Regions from separate parts of the Homo sapiens genome. Here region 1 is linked to region 2. The links come from fine-mapping of genetic effects on gene expression. Tissue or cell type: prefrontal cortex. Region 2 holds a variant in brackets; the other region holds the start of a gene. All regions are shown on one strand. Distances are between the middles of the regions.

The links. PIP is the estimated chance that this variant, and not a neighbour inherited with it, causes the effect.
Region 1: KIF25 starts here. The variant in region 2 is fine-mapped to the expression of KIF25 in prefrontal cortex (CommonMind, PIP 0.95).

The regions. Positions count from the first base shown.
Region 1 is chr6:167,996,513-167,999,197 of GRCh38, reverse strand. KIF25 (kinesin family member 25) reads right to left here and starts at 1,527. Exons shown (of 13, transcript NM_030615.4): 1 at 328-1,527; 2 at 1-106. It overlaps KIF25-AS1 (KIF25 antisense RNA 1), which reads left to right and starts at 2,121. Exons shown (of 4, transcript NR_103750.1): 1 at 2,121-2,292; 2 at 2,597-2,685.
Region 2 is chr6:167,791,689-167,794,373 of GRCh38, reverse strand. All of the region lies in intron 1 of LINC01558 (long intergenic non-protein coding RNA 1558), which reads left to right. Among named protein-coding and RNA genes, the nearest start is that of LINC01558, 3.8 kb to the left of the region's middle. The variant G/T (reference allele first, on the strand shown) is at 1,176.

The sequences.
Region 1 (2,685 bases), 200 kb before region 2:
GCGCGAGCCTGCACTGCGGAGCATCCCCCACTGAACGTGCACCGGGCACCAGCTCCTGAGACGCGGCCGTGAGATCTGCAGCACCTGTCTCCACTTCGAAAGACCCCTGCAGGGTAGTGAACAGTTATTTTATTTATTTATTTTTTGAGCCAGAGTCTTGCTCTGTCGCCCAGGCTGGAGTGCAGTGATGCAATCTCAGCTCACTGCGACCTCCGCCTCCCAGGTTCAAGTGATTCTCCTGCCTCAGCCCCCAGAGTAGCTGGGATGACAGGTGCCCACCACCACGCCCAGCTAATTTTTGTATTTTTAGTACAGAAGGGTTTTTACCATGTTGGCCAAGCTGGTCTCGAACTCCTGACCTCAGGTAATGCGCCCGCCTCGGCCTCCCAAAGTTCTGGGATTATAGGCATGAGCCACCGTGCCCGGCCATGAACAGTTATTTTAAACTTCTGGATTCATACTTCACAAATGTGTTCACTTGGCAAAGGGGTATCCCTTGGTAATAAGTACCAAGGAAAATCCCTTTGAATGGCATCCTGGGCTCGACATTTTAGGCATTTTAGAGGGGATTTTGGAAATTCAGTATCTGTCATATTTCCTTGATTTAATGACTGGAAGGAAATTAGAAGCTTTTTATTCTCATAAACTCCACTGGTTTCCAGTGAGCAACACATCTTCTCCGTATGTGCTCAGAACTTGCCAAATCCATTCTGAAATCTTGTCTTGGATCCACAGCAAGTTTATCCACCCTGTCATGCTGAGCAGCTCCTTCTACATTTTGAAAACCAAGTGGGTGTCATAGGCCAATGATTTACAGCCTCCGTCTGGTCTCTATGAACCCACAGAAGCTGGGATCAGCCTCTGCCTGCATATTCTCCATGGGCCGCGCACTGCACGCTCCTCAGCTAGACCAGGAGACCAGGCTTGAGGTGGAACACTCAGAAACTTCCACAACCAATTCTTCCTTGTGGGACTTGACTCCATCTTAGGAAGGTTCATATTATCTTTTTCATGCTCCAGATTAAAAAAAAAAAAAGCTGCAGCGTAGTGAGACTTTCTGAAGTGCCAGGTGCTTCACTGATATCTCCCTTTGTCTTTATAGCAACCCAGAGAGGTGGTGCTATTGTGAAGATTAAATAAGAAAATACACCAAATGGTTTCAAAAGTACTTGGTACACAGGAAGCACTCAATAAATGTTCTCTTATATCAATGTTTGGAGCACTGAACTACATAAGTAGATGCTTAAAATGAGAATTATTCTTTGACACATCTAACAGCTGGAGAACCTCTCGGCATGGCCAGGGAAGAGAAGCTTCGCAGGAACACTGGCTTCGTGGGCCTCGGGCAGGTGGAATTCGGAGAAACTGGCCAAAGTGCAACCATCAAAATCAAACCTCACAGAAGCGAGGGTCACCCACTCAATCATCCACCTTGGCATCCTCGTGTTGCAAAATCAAACCCTGAGACTTTACATTAAATTTCATGGGATCTCAGGTCTCATACCTTCGACCAAGAAAGCACGAGAGCCTCTGGGTCTTGTTAATGGGCAGTGAGAGACGTGGGTGGAAGGTGCTGGTGAGGAAGGGGCAGGGGCAGGGGCAGGGGCAGTCTCCACCGGCATCTCCAGTTACAGCAAAATCCTTGCTTTTCCCGCGCAAGTCCCCATCTCTGCAGATTCCCCCGCCCCCCATCTCTGCAGATTCCCCCGCCCCCCATCTCTGCAGATTCCCCCGACCCCCCATCTCTGCAGATTCCCCCGCCCCCCATCTCTGCAGATTCCCCCGCCCCCCATCTCTGCAGATTCCCCCGCCCCCCATCTCTGCAGATTCCCCCGCCCCCATCTCTGCAGATTCCCCCGCCCCCATCTCTGCAGATTCCCCCGCCCCCACCTCTGCAGATTCCCCCGACCCCCCATCTCTGCAGATTCCCCCGCCCCCCATCTCTGCAGATTCCCCCGACCCCCCATCTCTGCAGATTCCCCCGCCCCCCATCTCTGCAGATTCCCCCGCCCCCATCTCTGCAGATTCCCCCGCCCCCATCTCTGCAGATTCCCCCGCCCCCAACTGCCCGCTACAGCTCTTTCCTTGTGCCTCACAGCAGCCGGTCCCACTTCCTGCATCGCCACCAATGTGGCCCAGGCCACCAGCCCCCGTGACACTGCAGCCATCCCCTTTGCTCCCCGTCGTGGCCTCCCGACCGAGCAGCCAGAGTGACCCCGAAAGCCTAAATCAGCCTGCGGCGCCCTCACCCGTCCTCCAGCTGCCATCGCCTCCTGGGTGAAGAGGACGCAGGTCGCAGCCCCCGCAGCTCTGCCCCTCTGCCCTCCGGCCAGGCCGCCCCGCTGTCCCCCTTGCTGTCCACCTCTCTGTCCACCCCTGCTGTCCCCCCCCGCTGTCCCCCCCGCTGTCACACCCCCGCTGTCCCCCCCCCGCTGTCCCCCCTGTTGTCCCCCCGCTGTCCCTCCCGCTGTCCCTCCGGCGAGGAGGCTTCTGCACGTTCTGCGTGGGCCTCTCCCCGGGGCCGCCCCAGGTCTCCCCTGACGCCCACACCCACCACCAGGCTGTTGTGCGGGACCTTCCTTCTCTGCCTCTCCAGCTGGTGACGCGCACTGACGTCCTGCAAGGCCCGCTCCAGGTGCGCCACCTTTGACTGGCATGCTGAAAGGACAAAGGGACGGAGGCATT
Region 2 (2,685 bases):
TGCCACTACCATCTATTCATTAACAGATGTTTATTGAGCAGCGACTATAATTCAGGCGTTGTGTGCGTGATGGTAGCAAAACAACAGGGGAAGAAAGTCCATCGCCTCTCCCTTCCTGGAGCTTCCATATTGGTGAAGGAGATGGAAAGTAAAATGAAAAGCAAATATAAAATTACATATTTTACTATGTGCAATGAAAAAATATAAAGCGTGTGGTGACAGAGAATGGCAGGGAATGGATACTTAGTGTCATCAAGCAAGGATTTCAGAAGAATGCATCAACTTGGGGCTTGTGAGAATTAAAGACAGTTTTCGAAGCACTGAAGTGAATGAATTAATTTGGGCATAGGGGACTGGGACAGCTAGAGGGGTCTCAGAATCACACTCTGTGATGTGAGCAGGAGAAAATCCACCAGAAGCATGATGATGACTCCCAGGCTCTAGTTGGATCTTCTGGAATTTGAACAGAAACCTCAACAATTTTCTTTTGAAACTCTAAGATGCTCCATGTGAGGAGGACTTTTGGGCAGGTTCTTATCAAACATTATTTCAAGTACCATCATAAAATAAAGGAAACTGTGGCCTCCGTGGAGGCAATAAAGCGTCAATATTTCAGCAGTTATTCACACGCTTGTTTACACTGAAACCTGCTCCATCGACAGGTGGTAGAATCATTGTCAGGCTGGGCTCACAGACGTTGGTGTTACCAGGCGTAGGTTATCAACGCCCATGCCCAGAGGCCCTGGAAAACGGTGACCGAGGATGAATTAAAGGAAATTACACCAACAGGGCAACATGCCTGACATATTTCCAGAAACAGAAACAAAAGGATCTGCATAGCTAGGCCAGACCACAACACCATCTTGTAGAAGCACATCAGCCTCAAACCACTGCAGAAATGGACTTTGTACACCACACTTAGAAGAAGATATTCTTAAGGACTGTGTTTCAGTGTTAAACTTTACAGGCTAGGGAGATTTTTAAAAAAAATCATAATTCTTTGATTGTCTTTTTTTCAGCACAATGGTTTAAAATGATCCAGCTGGTTAGAAAAATGTCAGCATTGTCCTCACATGAAACATTGATCCACATGGGCACTGACACATTTCAGCTTCAATATTTGACATCAGATCAATCTTGCCTTCTCCTGCATTAGCAGCCCAATATTCAGGCCT[G/T]CAGACTGGAGGCTGCTGCACCTGGCTTTTTGCCATACGGGCTGACCCTCCCTAATTCAAAAACCTGGAATCCCAAATGCCCTGACATCTACAATGTTTAGAGCACTAACCTCATGCCACAAGTGAAACATTCCACACCTGACCTCATGTATTAATCTGTTTCCATGCTGCTGATAAAAACATACCCAAAACTGGGAAGAAACAGAGGTTTAGTTGGACTTACAGTTCCACATGGCCGGGGAGGCCTCAGAATCATGGCGGGAGGCAAAAGGCACTTCTTACATGGTGGCAGCAAGAGGAAAATGAGGAAGAAGCAAAAGCAGAAACCCCTGATAAAGCCATCAAATCTCATGAGACTTATTCACTATTAGGAGAACAGCACAGGAAAGACCGGCCCCCGTGATTCAATCACCTCCCCCTTGGTCCCTCCCACAACATGTGGGAATTCTGGGAGATACAATTCAAGTTGAGATTTGGGTGGGGACACAGCCAAACCATATCACCTCATGTGACAGGTTGCAGTCACAATGTAACCAAAATTTCATTACATTTACAAACTATTAAAAATATTGTATAAAATTACCTCAGGCTATGTGTATATAAAGCATGAATTTATTTTGTGTTTCAACTTGGGTAGCATCTCCAAGATGTCTCATTATGTATACGCAAATATTCCAAAATACGAAACAATAAAACACTCAAAACACTTCTGGTACCAGGCATTTCGAATAAGAGAGACTCCACTTGTACCAGCTCCGTATCCCACGGCTTTTGCAAAATCTCTATGACCTGGTGCTAAGGGACCTTTTGGGTTTAAAGCACTGCTTGTGTTGCTGATTCTGAAAGGGTTAAAGGGAGAGTAATCATTGATGGTGTCCCACAGCCATGCCCGCAGCCTGTCAAGCACAGGGAGGTTGAGAGAGAGAGCGGATTGGTCCAGGCGCAGCCACCCCTTCACTACCAAGCGTGCACTCATCCCAAGAGCCGCCACCCCGCACCCGCCAGGAACTGATCAGGAAGGAACAAGAAGGACATGGTTCTGTCCTCAGGGAACTTGGGGATAAATAACATATGCAATTAAGATGTAAGACAAAATATATTCGTATAAAGTGCAAAAACACAGGCACATCACTCTCTGCCTTCAGAAGTGAGGGTGCCAGAGCTTGGTGCCTGGGAGTGGCCCGCAGAGGGTTCAGGGCTGCTGTGTGTTCAGGTTGTTCATCTGGCTCTGCTGATGAGGCTGAGTGCAGGCTGTGAAAATTCATCAAGCTGATACTTTAAGTGTACTTTCTGTATGTATGTTCTATTTCCATAAAAAGGGAGAAGTGAAAAAAATTAATGAGAAAGAAGGCTTGAGTTACAAAATCAGAAATTTCATCAGCTAGTCTACCTCTCTGCCGCCTTCTTCTCTGCCTGGGGTCTCTGCCAGAGTGGGCAGCACAGGAAGCTGCTGGACTCTAGGTGCCTTGCCGCCCTCAGAAACTCCACATTTCACAAAATGGTCAGATGC